Linked DNA regions of Homo sapiens. The protein of the gene in region 1 interacts with the protein of each later gene in a pairwise test. Each region holds a gene or a part of one and is shown in the gene's direction. Other genes may lie near its edges. The genes, in order: MMP2, THBS2 and COL5A1.

Evidence for each region.
Region 2: the proteins of MMP2 (region 1) and THBS2 interact in a two-hybrid assay, tested with the Homo sapiens proteins (one study listed by BioGRID).
Region 3: the proteins of MMP2 (region 1) and COL5A1 interact in binary tests that used the Homo sapiens proteins (3 or more experiments, as listed by UniProt).

Annotation. Positions count from the first base shown.
Region 1 is NC_000016.10:55,482,198-55,489,315, forward strand, and holds part of MMP2 (72 kDa type IV collagenase isoform 1 preproprotein), read left to right. Parts: intron 1-711; coding exon 712-938; intron 939-1,818; coding exon 1,819-1,967; intron 1,968-3,101; coding exon 3,102-3,230; intron 3,231-3,406; coding exon 3,407-3,580; intron 3,581-6,345; coding exon 6,346-6,519; intron 6,520-7,118.
Region 2 is NC_000006.12:169,222,839-169,229,956, reverse strand, and holds part of THBS2 (thrombospondin-2 isoform 1 precursor), read left to right. Parts: intron 1-277; coding exon 278-385; intron 386-1,675; coding exon 1,676-1,835; intron 1,836-3,658; coding exon 3,659-3,777; intron 3,778-4,002; exon of another isoform or gene 4,003-4,162; intron 4,163-4,292; exon of another isoform or gene 4,293-4,577; coding exon 4,578-4,812; intron 4,813-6,481; coding exon 6,482-6,709; intron 6,710-7,118. UniProt on the Homo sapiens protein: Adhesive glycoprotein that mediates cell-to-cell and cell-to-matrix interactions. Ligand for CD36 mediating antiangiogenic properties.
Region 3 is NC_000009.12:134,840,713-134,845,371, forward strand, and holds the end of COL5A1 (collagen alpha-1(V) chain isoform 1 preproprotein), read left to right. Parts: intron 1-1,444; coding exon 1,445-1,591; 3' UTR 1,592-4,131; downstream 4,132-4,659. UniProt on the Homo sapiens protein: Type V collagen is a member of group I collagen (fibrillar forming collagen). It is a minor connective tissue component of nearly ubiquitous distribution. Type V collagen binds to DNA, heparan sulfate, thrombospondin, heparin, and insulin.

The DNA of each region.
Region 1 (7,118 bases):
GCTCCCTGAACCTCTGCAGGGACCTGCTCAGTTTGGGCCTCAGTTTGGGCAGGGCCAGTTGTATGACTCATGAAGGACAGGACTACTTTCTTTTTGCAAATGGCTGATTCAGGATTTAAACCCAGGTCTGTCTACTGCCAGAGCCCATGCACATAGTCCTTGAATCTCTTTAGAAGAAAACAGGAGGAAAAAAGTCCCCAAGTCACCAGCCGCAAGGTAGATAAATGAGTTGATAGAGGTAAAGGAAGGATGCTGGAGTATAATGATTCCATATCACAGCCTCTGGAGCCAGATTGCTTTGTCCCAAATCCAGATCTACCATTTGTGAACTGTGTGATCGTAAGCAAGTTTCTTAACCTCTCTGTGCTTCAGTTTCCTCCTCTGTATAATAGGGTTAGTATATCTACATTACAGAGTTTTGAGCATTAAATGAGTTAACATATTCTGACTTTAGTGCCTGGACATATAGTCAGCACCCAGCACCAACAAGTGGTAGCCATGCTCTCTATAGCTGTATGTCCTGTCGCTCAACTAATGGGTGACCGTGCTGGTTTGGGAACCCAGTACTCCACCCAGTGCTCTGGGACCCCTGGCTTATTTCCTGTCTGGACTATGGCACTGGGTTGGGGGGCTGATTGCTACAGCCTGCTTTGGTCAGTACTGTGCCATCCTAATGTGGCTAATTGCCTTGGGGGTGTGCATTTCTTTCAGCAATACCTGAACACCTTCTATGGCTGCCCCAAGGAGAGCTGCAACCTGTTTGTGCTGAAGGACACACTAAAGAAGATGCAGAAGTTCTTTGGACTGCCCCAGACAGGTGATCTTGACCAGAATACCATCGAGACCATGCGGAAGCCACGCTGCGGCAACCCAGATGTGGCCAACTACAACTTCTTCCCTCGCAAGCCCAAGTGGGACAAGAACCAGATCACATACAGGTGCCGGGGCAGGGCTTGGGGAGGCAGGGCCATGGGGCTGAGGGACACGAGTCTCCTTGACCCATGCATTCTCTCCACTCAGGGGATCCATGAGGTGTCTTTTGTGAAGGCTTGACATCTTAGGGAGTTTCAATACACAGTTCTTAGAAAATGAAGTCAGACAGACTTGAGTTTCATACTTGCTGGCCATGAGACATTGGGTTACTTTTCAGTGCTGTGAATGTTGGCTTTCCAATCTACAAAATGGGGCTTAAAAAATGCCCTTATATGGTATGTTGGGGAACTAAGCTAGGCTGAACTAATACAAACGGCTTCTATGATTTTTGACACAGAGCAAGAGTGTAGTAATGCTAGTCATTGTTATTGTTTTTAGATGAGGTCATTGGGATGGGCAGAAGGAACGTGATGATTGGTAGCTAATTGGGTTTAGCAGCCCAATTGGGTTATAACTGGTTGCTAATTGGGCCAAGAGCTGTGCTCTGTATGGGTGGTGCTGGGTTCCAATGGTGGGATCTTTGCCCTGTGCCCCATAATGCACTACTTATGGCCCTCCCCCACCAGCCAGAAGTGACAGATGGAACTCCTGAGCTGGGGCCTAAAAATGTTGGCTGGCCTGGGACTCCCTGGGTCTTCAAGGCATTCTGGGAGGGTTGTCCTTGGCAGTGAGCCCTGCCCAGCCTACACACACATACACGCAGGCACATGCTCACATATACATACACATACCTGTGCACCCTTCCCGTGCTTGTGCATATACTTGTATGTTCACATACACACACACACTCAAACTTTTTCATACATCTGTGCACACACACATACTTGCATATACATACACTTATGCACATGCATACACACTCACATGCAGTTCTACCACCTCCAGGATCATTGGCTACACACCTGATCTGGACCCAGAGACAGTGGATGATGCCTTTGCTCGTGCCTTCCAAGTCTGGAGCGATGTGACCCCACTGCGGTTTTCTCGAATCCATGATGGAGAGGCAGACATCATGATCAACTTTGGCCGCTGGGGTAGGCAGAAGATGGGGCAGAAGAGGGGCCAGCAGGGATCAGTGTTGAGACGAGGGGGTGAGATGGACATTAGAGGGGCGTGGGGATCCTAAGGGCGGCTTAGATAGGACAGTAGATGGTGTGGGCCCTGGGGGTGGTTTAGATGGGGGCAGCACAACACGGAGTGGACACTGGAGAGCCACGTTGACATGGGGGCAGATGGTGTGTTGTGGTATAACCTGGAGGCCGTCTAAACCCGAAGCAAGTGGTCTACTGTGCTGTCCAATATGGCAGCCATTAGGCAGAATATACATGGCTGTTTAAATTTAAATTAGTTAAAAATTTTAAATTAGTTTCCTGGTCACACTGGGCACATTTTAAGTGCTCAAAAGACACAGGAGGCTAGTGACTATTGATTTTGGACAGCACAGACAAAGAATATTCCTCTTAATCACAGAAAGCTCTGTTGGATGATGCTGGTAGACACTGAGGAACTGTAGATATATGAGAGTGGTTTGGAAACAGTGGAGCAGTGTAGACACTAGAGGAAGGGTCGTAGAACCTGGGGCCAGGTGGCCATGTGAGTTTATGGTGTGAACACTGCCAGTAGCACAGACATAAAGGTATGTGGTATAGACACTGAGTGGTAAGTGATGAAGGTAAAGAGCAGGGGAAACAATGTAGACAAGTGGGTGGGTGGTACAGGCCTTGGTGACAAGGTGGGCATGAGGATTCATGTTGCAGATATTGGTGATAGTGTGACATGAAGGCAGGATTGTGGTTAAGAGGGCAGTATTGACAGGATGGAGGATGGCATAGACACTGGGGATGATGAAGATGGGGTGAGGACACTAGTGTGGTAATGTGGGTATGTGGTACATATAGTGTCATGGTGGTAGAGTAGACAATGGAGGTAGAGGGTATGGATACTGGGAGTCATGTAAACCTGGGAGAGCAGTGTAGACCATAGGATGGTAACAACCAGGTCAGCAGATCTCTACTGAGCTCCTGTTGACAGTCCTGGATAACCCCACTGGGACAAGGGAAGGGGACAGATGCTGGGTGGGCTGACAGGCTCCACATGTAGATGGGGTGTGGAGGGGTTTCAGGGTCTAGGTGGCACAGCTAGACGCTAAGACCCAGTGTGTGTTTCAGAGCATGGCGATGGATACCCCTTTGACGGTAAGGACGGACTCCTGGCTCATGCCTTCGCCCCAGGCACTGGTGTTGGGGGAGACTCCCATTTTGATGACGATGAGCTATGGACCTTGGGAGAAGGCCAAGGTGAGAAAGGGGCCCTCTGCATGCCCCAGACCTTCTCTCCTGTCCTCTCTCCACTCCATTTGCTTGGACCAGAGAGGTGGGAGGGGAGGAAAGTCACACATCTGGGTGAGTCAGAATCTTGGTCTCCAAAGAAGGCCTGGAGAAGTCCAACCTCCCCCTTCCATGTCACTCTTTAGTGGTCCGTGTGAAGTATGGGAACGCCGATGGGGAGTACTGCAAGTTCCCCTTCTTGTTCAATGGCAAGGAGTACAACAGCTGCACTGATACCGGCCGCAGCGATGGCTTCCTCTGGTGCTCCACCACCTACAACTTTGAGAAGGATGGCAAGTACGGCTTCTGTCCCCATGAAGGTGAGCATCCACTCTAGTCCCCAAGACTTTCCACCCCAAGCCTCCAGCTTCCCGGGCTCCCCAGTGTGCTCTTCCCTCCACACTCTCCAGGACTGGCTGCCACTGCCAGTTAATGAGCATCCCTCCAACGTCCTTCACTCAGTTCCCCCCCATCCTGATCTGAGCCATTGCTGTTTCTCTCCCACCAGTACCATGATGAACGTAGTACTCTAATTAAATCAAGTTGATTTTTTTTAAGTTTCACCATTAGCAATCATTTAGGAAGTCACAGATTTGATTTGCTAATTATTTATTTCTAATATATATTGGAGTGAACTTAGAACTATTACAATGCCCAGTGGTTCTCTCTAGAACCAGTCTTTACACTTCAGTCAAGATTGATACTTCAAGGGCATGAGGAAAGGCTTGCTGGTAGCTGGAAACCTAGCAGTGTGATAGGGAGGCAGGACTCAGACCAGGGCTGGACTCAACCTGGTTTGCGTACTCCAACTGAGGAATTTCAGCTATTGCTCCTGCCTTGGTCCTGATGCTGCCTCTGCTAATGCGTGTGTGTGTGTGTGTGTGTGTGCCTGTGTGTGTGTGTGTGTGTGTGTGTGTGTGTGTGTGTGTGTGTCTGGGCACGGGGGCTATACTATCTGCCTCTCTTGGGCACTGTCTTTTTCTGCCTCCTGTCTAGCTTGTGTCTGCATCTCTGTGTCTTGATAAAGACTTTAGGCTTGACTCAGTATTTGTGTTTGTGTGCTTGTCAGTGCCTGAGATGCAACATTTCAGAGATTTTGAAGCCACATGGGGGAAATCTTTTAAAATGGGGTACAGATATTGACATACACACTCAATCCTTTTTAAAAATATCCTTGACACACTTAATAGTCATAAATCACAAAAAGACAATGTAACTTCATACTCTATGAAGTCATCATATTTGATAATTCTGCAGATTGAAAGCCCAGAAAACCTGGCGAAAATGGAAAAAAGTCTAAAAATTTTTAACACTATCTTCTTTCCCATGTCACAAAGACTCTATAGTCTACATAGACTAAAGACTGTCTTTTTGTCTGTAATTTTATGTCTGTGAATCTCCCTAACCCCACTGTAACTGAAAACTAAGCACCAACCATCTTGACAGAATGAAAGAAACAAAGAGCTAGTTAATTCCCTTCCTGTTTATGCTTTTACTACCAGAGCTAAACTTTATATTAAGTAAGAGTTTAAGCCATTCACCATTAATAAGTCAGACATTTTGAAATAAAAATATTTTTTGTATCTTGCGTTTCCCGGTAGGGATTACATGTGGCGTTAACCCTTCCCTGTGTCACCCCTCTGATAGGAACAGAAAGCTTTGGTGATAGTTAGATGTGGAAACAGCTGTATTTCATAAATTTGGGAAGGGTTATTCCCTGCATTGGACATTAGCCATTTACTTTGTGCTTAGCCAGATGCAAGTACGCACAACACGCACGTGTCTGGGTCTCGAGGCAGAGATTGTTGTTACTCAGCCCCTGCTGATGGCTGAGTCAGTGTCTGATTCTTGCCATCCTTGTCAGGGGAATTTGGGAGGAGACAGGGGCTTCCTGGGTGGTAGAAATGAGAGGTCAGAGGCAGGGGGCTGGCATTGGTCGAAGTTAACGCTTTGCCTTTCTCAACTCTGAGGCCACTAAGGTATCTGGACTCAGTCTTGCCTTTTCTCTAGGTGCCATTGTTTCTGGCATTGCAGGACAAGGTCTTTTGGTAGAGAGGGGAGTGGTGAGGATACAGGGCCTCGAGTTCTGTGGTGGGAGGCCAGGGACTGGGCTCCATTCCGGCCATGGTGGAGTTAACGGGGGCTGGTGAGGTCACCTCTGGCGCCGTTGTGCACAGATGGTCCTTGTTATGGACTTGTGGTTTTGCTGGTTGGCAATTCCAGAGACACCATTTTTTAGCTTTGGGTGGATGAGGGGAGGATGGGGAGAATCCAAGACAGACAGGCCAGGCTCTGAACCCCACTCCCTCCCCCAACTCTCCATTTATGGCCCCTGTCTTGAAGATGTCAAAGTAGGAGCCCAGAGTGTTTAGTAAAAGGGACCTGAAGGCACCACCTCCCTCTCCCTCCCTCCTCCTCTTCATTCTTTCTCTCCTTCCTACAGAGACTGCAACAAGGCCATCCAGGAAGGGGCCTGGGGTTGACAGGAGGTAAAGCAAGCTTTCTGTGTATGCGTGTGCACGCACACACACATATATGAGAGTGACAGACTAAGCAAGAGAGATTGAGATTAGTGTGTTTTGTAGTTTTTAGTTACAACCTTCATTCACTTCTTTCATTTCTGTGACCATGAGCAGTTTGAGAACCATCTTTGTCCTAGCCTTGATTTCTCCACCTATCAAATGGAGAGAGATTCTCGTGGTCCTGCCTGCCATGACTGATATATTCATGTCATACATCATTATTACATGAAATTTGCATGGTACAGGTGTGGACCAGGCAGAATGGACAGTGCCCTTGGGGCTGAGGCAGGGTTCTAGAAGCCCTTGCTGTGTGCCAGGTGTCAATCATTTTGTTGTTGGGTGGTCCACAAGGTCCCACGGGAGGGATTGGGATAACCAGGGAAGCAGGGGTTCTCTCTGGGAGCTCAGAGAAGCAGCTCCTTACCAACCAGTAGAGATGTTTTCTTAATATTTTAACAATGCATCAACTTCACTGGTGTGAACCGGCAGGTGGGCAGCCAGCCAGCCCTGTGCCCATGGAAGCATGTCTCATTCACATCCTTCCCTCTCTCCCCCACCCTTAGCCCTGTTCACCATGGGCGGCAACGCTGAAGGACAGCCCTGCAAGTTTCCATTCCGCTTCCAGGGCACATCCTATGACAGCTGCACCACTGAGGGCCGCACGGATGGCTACCGCTGGTGCGGCACCACTGAGGACTACGACCGCGACAAGAAGTATGGCTTCTGCCCTGAGACCGGTGGGTGCCACTCCCTCTCCCTCCCTCAGGGCCCAGCACCTGCTGTCTGACAAAAAAAAAACCCATAAGACTCCGAGTGCCCACCTCCTTTCCCCAAGACAGGGGTGCTAAGACATCTGTGCGAATGACATCCACACCAAGATGTCCGTGTAGCTAGTCAGGATACTTGTCACCTGGTATGGCCTGGGCACTGAAATCAGAACAGACATTGGGCATCAACAGTTGAATTGGTGACACTTAAATGTCAGGCCTGCTCAGGATCCTCTGACCGACCTGCATCCCTTTTCTCTCAGGCTCTCTGGCAGAGACTTCTCTCTCCTCCTCTCTGACCCTGCAATCTCTCTTCCCTGCCTTTCCTGGTCTGTATCTCCACCTTTTAGTCTGTTTTTTATTAAGAGCTCCGTGCTTTCCTCCCTGTCTCCTTCCTGCCCTCCTCTCTATCCCTCCCTCCTTTCCTTCTTCCCTTCCTCCAACAGGAATTTACTGAGCGCCTGCTTTGTGCAGCATACACAGAGGTTGGTCTCTGCAAAGCCCTGCCCAAGGGGGCTCACAGCTGAGGGGCATGTGCTGGTGCCATCAGCTTCATCCAACTCCCTTTG
Region 2 (7,118 bases), on another chromosome or scaffold:
TGCAGTTGTTTGGCAACCTCACTGGGATTCTGGGCTCCGAACACAAGTTTCTTTTGTCTCCCTCGTGAGTAGTGGTGACATAATTTCCAGGGCAGGAGTTGAGAAGAAATTCATGCGCTTCTGGCCTCCTGGCTCCTCTCTCAGCTCCCGCTTGAGATCGAGGACTGATGGGGCACGCTTCCTTCCTCGGCGCCATGCTGGTTTCATTTCACCTGCATTCCTGAAAGAGGCGCTTTCCTAAATGTTTTTCCAAGTATTCTTCCTTCTCCAATTGCAGGATAACTGCCCCCATCTGCCAAATTCTGGGCAGGAAGACTTTGACAAGGACGGGATTGGCGATGCCTGTGATGATGACGATGACAATGACGGTGTGACCGATGAGAAGGTAGGAGCAGCTTGTGCCGCGCACCTGCCCTGGGTTCCAGGAGCAGCGAGGTCCACAGGAGGCCACTTTATACCAAACAGCCCTTGTCAACGTAACTGCCATTGTCCTGCAAGCGTTTGTGCATAGGCAGTTCCCAAAGGTCACTATAAAGACAGTCCTTTGCAAAAGCGGATTTTACCTCAGTGCATGGGGCTGCCCAGGGTGTGCTGCCGGAAATGTTTTGAATAATTTTTTCTATTTTAACTGCAAAAAAATAGAAGACCTCCTCTCCTTCTGCTGAGGAGCCAGTGATGGGCAAGGCTGACACCACCATGAGTGATAGACTTGCCTTTATGGCAACATTTAAAATATTACCATTTTTCTAAGAAAATTGCTGCAAACACAAATGGTTTAATGTATTTGTACACAAAACAGCTCTAGCAAGAATAGATCAAGATTTTACTCACTGCTTTTTTACATCTGACTTTGATGGGAGACATTGACTCACTAATCCATTCATTTATTTGATATTTACATATCTCTCCTCACCATGAAGTGTATGATATACCATTTTTGCCTTAGCAATCTACAAATTTTCAACAAAAGACAGATGCATAAATAATGATAAAATGATTTGATATGGAAAAAGTGTTTGGCGAGGGCTAACTCTTTTTTTTTTTTTTTTTGGTCGCTCAGGCTTGAGTGCAATGGCATGATCTTGGCTCACTGCAATCTCCATCTTCTGGGTTCAAGCGATTCTCTTGCCTCAGTCTCCTGAGTAACTGGCATTACAGGCGCACACCACCACGCCCGGCTCATTTTTGTATTTTTAGGAGAGATGGGGTTTCACCATGTTGGCCAGGCTGGTCTCGAACTCCTGACCTCAGGTGACCCGCCTGCCTTGGCCTCCCAAAGTGCTGGGATTAATGGTGTGAGCCACTGTGCCCGGGCCTAACTGGCTTTTTAAAGCACTGGGATTAAAGGTGTGAGCCACTGCGCCCGGCCCTGGTCTTGAACTCCTGACCTCAGGTGATCCGCCCGCCTCAGCCTCCCATAGTGCTGGGATTAAAGGTGTGAGCCTCCGTGCCCTGCCCTGACTGGCTTTTTGAAGTGCTGGGATTACAGGTGTGAGCCACAGTGCCCAGCTGTGATTAAAGGTGTGAGCCACCGTCCAGCCCTAACTGGCTTTTGTGTTTGTTTGATTTCTATATTGATTTTCATCAACCTTGAGTACATAACTTATAAGTGCTAAACGGCCCGACACACATTCCTATGATCTTCGTTAAAGTCTTCCCTTTCTTGGTTTTCCAGGACAACTGCCAGCTCCTCTTCAATCCCCGCCAGGCTGACTATGACAAGGATGAGGTTGGGGACCGCTGTGACAACTGCCCTTACGTGCACAACCCTGCCCAGATCGACACAGACAACAATGGAGAGGGTGACGCCTGCTCCGTGGACATTGATGGGGACGGTGGGTGCTTCTGCTCCTTCCCATGCGTGCACTTTTTTTTTTTTTTTGAGATGGAGTTTCACTATTGTTGCCCAGGGCAGTAGCACCATCTTGGCTCACTGCGATCTCCACCTTTTGGGTTCAAGTGAGTCTCCTGCTTCAGCCTCCTGAGTAGCTGGGATCACAGGTGCACACCACCACGCCTAGCTAATTTTGTATTTTAAGTAGAGACGAGGTTTCACCATGTTGGCCAGGCTGGTCTCAAGCTCCTGACCTCAAATGATCCGCCTGCCTTGGCCTCCCAAAGTGCTGGGATTACAGGCGTGAGCCACCGCGCCCGGCCCAATGCATGCATTTTAAGGGTCGCAATTGGAGGCATTGGCAAGTTTCATGTTTTATTCTGAATTTTGATAAGCTCCTTTCATTTTTACACTACTATAAGATTAAATGATTCATTCAGTTATTCCCATAGGGACCCATGCTTATTCTGCCTTGCCTTTTCCTGAAGGTCAGGGGACACCAGCCACAGGACCGCCCTAGAGAAAGCTATGCATTTGGTATCCTCCTCTCTCTGACCCCAGCCTTGCAGTCCTGGGCCTCGTGCTTCTTCATGGCATCTTTTCTAATGTTCACCCTTCATTCAAAAATTCCAAGAAGCCATTTCATGTTTTCATCAAACTGAGCTTCTAGGAGTTAGAATAACGTGGGTGTATTGTGGTTACCTCTGCCACTGATCCCGGTTGCTGCTTTATCCGGAGAGTTCGCTGGCCTTGGTAAGCGAGCTCTGCAACCCAGTGCCACTGTCACCGCATGGTCATCCCTTCTCTTGGGGTGCCTGGAGACCAGGCGAGTGCTTCTGTAGAACCAGCAAGAGCTGGGGGCAGGCTCGCCTCCACGCTGGAGCTCGGCCCCAGCTCCTCCACACTTCGCCTCGTGGGGTCCTCTTCCCAGCCCGGCGCCAGCCACCCCCTTTCTGAGCCACCCCAACCTGCTGTTCTGTCTCACAGCGGGTTTCTCAGTCTGATCTTTTCCACTGATTTCTGCCTCCACCCTCCTCTCGTTCTCTGGGAATGTGGTGGGTTGCTGTCTGAGGGCTCGTGGTGGCCAGGGGGCTCCTCGGCTCCCCATCCAGGATGGCGTCTGTGATGTGCTGGATGCAGATCTCAAGCTCCAGTCCCTTCCATTTTTATTTTTTAGGTGTTCCTTACTTCCCTTCTCCAGACCTCACCTGACCAAAGCAAGGCGAGCGTCTCAGCTCAGTTCTGGCTCTTCCTGTGGACTCGCTGCCGTGTAACATTTTGCTCTGTCATTTGTGACACTGTCACTGATGGTATTGTTTAGTTCAGTGCTAGTTTATATTTTTGTAACTTCAGTATCAATGCAACTCATCACTTTCAGATTTCTTAAGATAAGATATGACATCTAAAAACCCTGCCACTCTCTGCCATTGTTTTTTTCCTACTCATGTGCATGGATGATAAACTCCTGGGAACTCAACACATACTTTCCAAGTGGGTATTAGGGAGAAATAAGCAATTTAGCAAGCTCAGATTTACACGGCGACAGCACATTCAACTACCCCTCCTGCAACATTACCCAGAAATCTCCAAAAGTTGGTTCTATTTCAAATGAAAGGTATTTGAACTGTAATGAAATATGTCATATGTTCTTCTAAAATCTAATAGTCTTTATATTTTACTATATTCTTAGGCGTCTTTTTATTATAATTAAATAGAAGTGTGGCTGTAAGCAATTTCGTGTGATAGGAAAAACAATGTGCTTTTTCTAAACTCACCTGTCCTTCTGGTTTGTTTTTGTTTTCTTCCCCCTTTAAACACTTACAGATGTCTTCAATGAACGAGACAATTGTCCCTACGTCTACAACACTGACCAGAGGGACACGGATGGTGACGGTGTGGGGGATCACTGTGACAACTGCCCCCTGGTGCACAACCCTGACCAGGTGAGGGCAGCCGCAGACAGGCGGGGTTGGAGGTCCTCATCAGAGGGACGCGGGGACGGTGGCGGTGTGGGGGATCACTGTGACAACTGCCCCTGGTGCACAACCCTGACCAGATGAGGGCAGCCATGGGCAGGCGGGTCTCAGGTCCTCATCAGTCCCCTCCATGGGGCCTTGGGAGTTTTCCATGAGCTCCACAAAGACAGGATAACATGGAGTTTTCAATGATTTCAATTGAAAACATTTATTCAACTCAAATCTCAGCACTATTCTTGTATCTCAGTGGCCACAGGCCAAATGAATAGACGCCTTCACCTCATCAGCTGGAGCGAGGTTGTGTCTTCACAGAATTCTCTCCCCATTTTCCTGATGCCAACATAGGAATTGGCTTCATTTCCAGGTTTGCGTTTGAAAGAGACAAGGGAGGACAGTTATCTTGATGCAGCTCATAGGATATATTATCCTATGATGTAAATGGTGTAAATGGCGCAAATGGTGTAAAAAAGAGACATAATTACCTGGTAGTTCATGCTTTTCCAGCGAAGAAGCACATCTTCCTTTAGTGAAGTGAATTACTGTGGAGAGGTGGCAGAGGGTGGAGAGATTCCTGGACCGAGAGGCCTGGCCCCAGTGCTTGTCCTGACGTCAGGGTCAGTGTGACCTCGGGCCAGCCGCCCCTGCGTGGCCCTGGGGCTTGTGCTGCAGGACGAGGAGGCCGGCTCTCAGGCTTGCGTCCTGCTGGTTCCTCTCCACCTCCTCAAACTGGCAGTCCTCTGCTGTTTCTCTCACGCCCCATCCCCTAGACCGACGTGGACAATGACCTTGTTGGGGACCAGTGTGACAACAACGAGGACATAGATGACGACGGCCACCAGAACAACCAGGACAACTGCCCCTACATCTCCAACGCCAACCAGGCTGACCATGACAGAGACGGCCAGGGCGACGCCTGTGACCCTGATGATGACAACGATGGCGTCCCCGATGACAGGGACAACTGCCGGCTTGTGTTCAACCCAGACCAGGAGGACTTGGACGGTGGGTGCTCTCTCAGCTCATGGGCGTGGAGGAAAATGGCTTCTGAGCAACCCGCCAGGGCAGAGATATGTATGCACGGAGATCATCTTAAATCTGCTGCTGGAAAAAGGGCAATGACTTTGGGCCTCTTAAAGCTGTGGGTCCATGCAATATGAGTTTCTTCTCCCCTGACACTCAACACATTCTTGGCTGTGTGTGTGCCCTTCAACAGGTGTGCTGCCTCAAGTGTGTGTGCACGTCGGGAGGAGGAGAAATCCCTGCCTCCATATAACTTCCAGATTGTTGACGATCTCCTAGAAAGAATGCGGGTTACGAACGTAGGATGAATTGGGAATTTGGTGTATGGGGCCAGGCAGGGGACAAGGAGGATTTTTTTGAAAGCAAAGCCAACAAAAGTGGCACGAGTGTGAAGCATGAGAGGAAGAGCTGCTTTGCTCAGCAGTGAGCATGAATAGGTGGCCCATAGCCACGGGGGCCCAAGGAAGGAGCTGGATGGGCTGCAGTCCTCTAAGTCAGCGTCCCTGAGTAATAAACAAGGGCACAGCTGTGCTCTGGGGCTTCCGGGGAGGCTGTGAGAAAGTGGCCCTCACTTGGAGTGGGGCCTGGCTGACACAGGCTCTCTTTGGAAGCCACGTCCTTGACAGAGGGAGATAAGGACTTGAGGGGCATCTGAGACAGCATGACTCAGAAGTACGTGGGAGATGCTGGGATCAGAAGGGCAGCTCCTGTGTTCTCCCCGAGCAGCATGAAGGGATGGAGTGAGCACAGCAAGCCTCATCTGGACTCCGTGTTCGGGCATGCAGGGGCTTGCTCCCCATGCAGCCTTTCCCCAGGGAGGGACTGGGACAGAGAGAAGCTGATAGGCAGAGCAGCATTTCAGCATTTCAGAATGCCCTGATACCAACTATGTGCCTGCCACGTGGTAGCTGGAGTATGTTCTTGAACAGAACGGAAACTAGTTGAAGAATATGATGAGATATTCAATCCAACTTGCCTTTCCTCCAAAACGGCAGGCCACGTGATAGCTAATTCAGTACATTGCAATCTGCCTGTCAGGTTATCGTCATCGCCGTAGACTGATAGACTGGACACATGTGGCAAATTCGTGGTCCCCCTGTTTGCACCAGGCCCACCTCATCCCCACTCCCCACCATGCCACAACCCCGCTGAAAACTTGACAAGGACCCACTAAACAGCGGAAGTCCATGTCTCCCTAGGAAAAACCATTTTAGTGTGAGTTCCGCTTTAATGCCAAATAGACTATAAAAGGCAAGGATGACTAAGAAAAGTAATAACAGACATTCAGAAAACTATCCAAACACAAAGCTGGAAATGCAGGTTGATATTACTTGACAGCCATTCAGGTTTTATACCTGCAGCATTGAGTTTGGAACACGGTGAGAAATGGCTTTATGTGAATTTGCTGTGCTGGCCTTTGCTGTGTATTTATCACAAAAATTTTGTGAAAAGAGTTGAGGTTCCTGTGAAGTCAAATGTTTTGGAGATTGTTGAGCACGAATCCACAAAACACTGCAAAGCACTCAGTCTTAGATGTTCTGGGAAAGATGCACTCATGTTTCTCAGACACGGAAAAGCAAATGGCAAACCACCGACCACCGACTTTGCTTCTTTGTTTTTGTTTTTGTTTTTGCTTGTTCTTTGTGCATAGGTGATGGACGGGGTGATATTTGTAAAGATGATTTTGACAATGACAACATCCCAGATATTGATGATGTGTGTCCTGAAAACAATGCCATCAGTGAGACAGACTTCAGGAACTTCCAGATGGTCCCCTTGGATCCCAAAGGGACCACCCAAATTGATCCCAACTGGGTCATTCGCCATCAAGGCAAGGAGCTGGTTCAGACAGCCAACTCGGACCCCGGCATCGCTGTAGGTGAGTCTCTGAGACACGGCGGTGGTGCCAGCATTTCTCCGGGGGAGGCGCCCACAGAAGATGCAGACTGCACTTTAAGATCATGCAGGTGGGATGCCATGTGGTCTTTCTGGAAGCCCCCATCCTTCCATGGTCTGTGAAACTGTCTGCCTAAATAACCTTGACAGGTACATGCACCTGCCGCTCTGAAGTCTCTGAAATTTCAGTAAACCATTTTATTTTATAGACTTGGTCTATGAAATGGGACCTCATAATCCTCTCAGAACTCTTGTAAGTTGGATCTAAAAGAAATACCTTCAATTCCACTAATCTCATGGTAAAAGAGCCCATCGGGATGATGAGGGGAGCCCGCCCTGCCTGCTGGGCATCCACTGTCAGATGGTCACAGGGCCAAGCTGGGGATTGCCTG
Region 3 (4,659 bases), on another chromosome or scaffold:
TTGCTGGCAAGGCAGGCTCTGGTGAGCTCCCCTCTGGGCTGCAGATAGCAGCTTCTCACTACACCCTCACAGGGTGGAGTCTCTCGGGTGCCTCTTTTATAGGGGCACTAATACCACTCATGGGGTTCCACCCTCAGGACCTCCTCAACTCCCATCGAACGGCCCCACCTCCTAATACCATCTTTGGGAACGGGAACATTAAGATCATAGTCAGGGAGAATAAGGCCCTTCAAGGCCACGCCCTCCCCATAGGTCAGGGAGCAGAATACCGGGAGAGCTGGAGCTGCTGTCTGCTATCCGAATCTCCGGCCTGGGAGTCTGCGCTGGGCCCTCTGCAGGGCTGCATCCTGGGGTCACTGCCTCCCATCCGGGAGGGAACCCTGGCTGGCCCCTACTTGTTTATCTGATCATTTCTTTTGGGGATGGGGCAGTGGAAGGAGATCCTTCCCAGGCCCAGATCCAGCTGCGACTGTAAATCCAGTCTGGGTCTGAGGTAGCAAAAGCCATCTGCCCAGGATGCGTTTGCAGGCTCCTGGTTTGCGGGAAAGGTGCGGCCTCCAGGGCCCTTGTCTTGGGGGAAGTTGACGGGACAGCAGGGCCAGCTCAGCCTCAGTTATAAAGAACACTGGGAGTTATATTTGGGTGGCTTTGGGGAGGGACCAAAGAATCTCACACCTGCGCTGCCTGTGTTCTGGGAGGGAGGCGGCCTCTCCTAGGCTTCCATCCCACATCCCAGCGCCCAGGGTTGTGCTGTTTTGAGCAAGGGATGGGTGCTGACTCATCCTGCAGGCCAGGTTCATTGCACTACCCCTGCCCTCTGTGCCTCAGTTTACCTAAGACTCCTCTAGACCAGATGGTGTGGAAGGTCCCCACCCCTTCCCATACTTGTGGAGGTGAAGACCCAGCCCACCGAGTGCCTAAGGCAGTGTGTGGCAGGTGGTCGTAGGGGGGTCTTACTTGGCTCAAGGCTCTGCCGGTGCCGCCTCGGACTCCTTCCTTTTCGAACCTGGAGCCCCCGTTTGATTTTCCAGTGTGCCCTGCTTGTTCTGTAGCTGGCCCTGGGTCCTGGGGAGGCTGCCTGGAAGTGAATACCTGGGGCATCACAAGGAGTCTGGACTGGGCACGGTGGGAAGGCTGATCAGCTTCAATCCTGTGTGTGCCTCAGCCACCCCTGAAGCCTTGGGAGGGTCCTGTCGCCTCGCTGATGCCCACACCACCCCACCTCCGACCTGTGCAGGGGGACTCTTGGGACATCCACCGGGGTTAAATGCATGCTCTGATCAGCCATATTTCCTCCAACACTTGCCCGGGCAAGCGCAGCCCTGGGTAGGAGACAGGACACCAGCCTGGGTTTTGGAGCCAGACAGATTGTGGGGGGTGATTGGTAAACCCCAAGACCCCCAACTGTTCTTAACCACCGGCCATCTGTCTCCCTCTTCCCCAGACCAAGAAAGGCTACCAGAAGACGGTTCTGGAGATCGACACCCCCAAAGTGGAGCAGGTGCCCATCGTGGACATCATGTTCAATGACTTCGGTGAAGCGTCACAGAAATTTGGATTTGAAGTGGGGCCGGCTTGCTTCATGGGCTAGGAGCCGCCGAGCCCGGGCTCCCGAGAGCAACCTCGTGACCTCAGCATGCCATTCGTTCGTGAGTGTCCCGTGCACGTCCTGACCCTGGACAGTGAAGGCTTCTCCCTCCCCTCCCACCTGACTTCATCTACGCCTCGGCACCACGGGGTGTGGGACCCCAGCCCGGAGAGAACAGAGGGAAGGAGCCGCGCCCCCACCTGGAGCTGAATCACATGACCTAGCTGCACCCCAGCGCCTGGGCCCGCCCCACGCTCTGTCCACACCCACGCGCCCCGGGAGCGGGGCCATGCCTCCAGCCCCCCAGCTCGCCCGACCCATCCTGTTCGTGAATAGGTCTCAGGGGTTGGGGGAGGGACTGCCAGATTTGGACACTATATTTTTTTCTAAATTCAACTTGAAGATGTGTATTTCCCCTGACCTTCAAAAAATGTTCCAAGGTAAGCCTCGTAAAGGTCATCCCACCATCACCAAAGCCTCCGTTTTTAACAACCTCCAACACGATCCATTTAGAGGCCAAATGTCATTCTGCAGGTGCCTTCCCGATGGATTAAAGGTGCTTATGTTTTTGTGAGTTTTAAGTAAATATTTGTATTGTATTGTTATAAATGTTAAGTGTGCCTGGCTTTCAATCATGCACGGAAACCCAGTCTCAGTCCCACGGACAGAATGGGCGAGGCATGGATTCTGGGTTGCAGTACCGTTCTGATTAGAAATAGGAAGTCTCCCCACCCCCGCCCTGGCCAAGAACGTGCAATAAATTGGAAGTTTGCCCCGGGGCAGCAAGAATTTATGCTGCCATTGAAAAGCAGGTACCAGTGCCCCTTTTCAGACAGTTTTTGATTCGCTCTAGACTTTTTTTTTTTTTAATAGGGAAAAAATTTGATAATTTTCTTTTTTCTACATGCACTTAAGACTAAAACACAGGTTTGGATTAATTTTATTTGCTTCCTTTTTCCGCTTTTCTTCCCGCAGAGCCTGATGGGAGAATGTCCAGGGCAGGGAAACCACATTTTTTGTAGGTGATAACTCAATGAAAATTGGTGCTTATTTTTTACACTTCTCTCTTGTGGCTCTCTTGTGGTGCTATCTATCTGTTTTAAGGTCTCCTTGAAGGCGCACTGGGGACCCTGGCCATGCCTCGTTCTCCCTGCTTTCTTTATCCTGTTATTGCCTCCACAGTCTGTTGCCAAGGACTCTAAGATCAATGCACGTCACTTTCCTTTCCACTGGGCAGGATAGCCAAGCACACTCCCTCCTGCGCTCTCCCGCCCCGGTGCGTCCACTCCCGAGGGCTGTTATGAGGACTGGGTTGTGCCTACTTGATTTGAAAACACACACAAGCAATAAAAAGCCTCTTCCTGCATTGTCTGTGGTGTGACCATAGCAGATTATATTTGGTTCCTGAATGTTTGTGGTGCTAATTTCTGTGTTTGTTCCAAGCCGTTCAGTCATGCCATGCGCTGCCTCGGTAGATGGAGTAATGTACAATGAACTCCATGAGTCTCTCCAGGGCTGCCTGCAGCACGTCTTTTCCAAGTAGCCTATTTGGATTCCCATCTCAAATGTCCTGGATGCGAGCGTCAGCGGCTCCAGAGCTCGGGGCGGGTGAGGTCCCCTTTGGGGAACCCTTTCCTGGCCATCGAGGTCGGGGGGCTGCCGTCTGTGGGCAGGAGGACCCGAGGGGCAGCCAGGAAAGGCGATCTCTTCACTGTGAAAAGTTGCCCGGGTGCAGCGCCTTTTCCTTCTACCATGGGAAATGCAGGCTGGGCCCTTGGGGTGAGCCTGCGGGGCTCTGGTGCTGTCCCCGACCCCCACCACCACCAGAATGCAGTTCCAGCTTAGGAAGCCACAAACAAGCCACCCAGGAGGAACAAAACACCGCCAGCGTGGATTTTCCAAATTTCCCTGGAAAGTAAGTCTCGCTCTTGCCAAAGAAAAGTCTGGCTTGGAGAGTCTCTGGAGCCCAGGATGCCAGCATGTGCCAATGACTGTCACCTTCATCTCTTCAAAAGAAAAGCCATAGCCGAGGACTGTCCCGCGACCCCCGTGGACTGCGTCTAGGTCATGTGATTCTGTTTTCATTTCTCATCCCATCCAATTTGTCCTTTTCTCCTGTCATTTTCTTCCTCTGTGGTCCCTTCAAAGTTGTTATAATTTGTACTGAACTTCAAAATGTGTCCCGTTCTCCCCAGACCACTCTAGCCACAGTATATTGCAATAAAATTACTTCTTATATTTGCAGAAATTCTTTTGGTGTAATTTTATTTTTTCCTCTCAATATATATAATTGGACAAACGCTGGCAAAAAGAAAAAAATGGTAAGCAAAAAACCCAAGATAAAGTTTCGAGGACATCAGGCCTTTTGAAATACAATGTCAAATGACACATTGTACGGTTTCAAAAAATCCGCTAGACATGTCATAAGTTTTAACTGTAATGCCCAGGAAAGGATATCTTAAAATATTCTAAACTTGTGTAACAAAGGAATAATTAACTGTAATAGTTTTTCAATAAATCGAGTTGGGTGTTTCCACCGTAAACAGATGTGAGTGACTCTCTTCTTAAGTGTGGCCAGGCCCCTCCCAGACAGGACTGCACACAGTCCCAGGACGCTAGGAGCTCTGGAGATAACCACACTGGCCACCCAGAGAAAGGAAGGGATGGCCCCGGCTGTCCTTAGGTGGAGCTTGTCCCTCAGGAGTGGCCAAGGCTGGCATGGACAGCTTTGTGCCCTTGGGAGGATGTTAGAACGTAACCGGGCACTAGCCCGAGAAGTGAGTTTCAGCCACTGCTGGGTGTCCACACCACCGTGTACTGTCCTCACTCTTCACTCCTGGCAGTCAGCACCCTGCGAGAATGTTCTTGAAGCTCTCCAGCACTGCCCTTCCAGCTGTGTAGCAGGATTAGACTCCCTAGCTCCTTGTGGCTAGAGGTCGGGGAAGGCACGGGGCTCGTTGCAGCCGATGACCTTGAGCCCACGTGGCATTCGCCTCTTCCGGTCTGAAGGTGTGGTTCCCTCGGGCACAGCACCAGCCATGTTTCGTGGAGGGGCTACGTCACCAGCAGGT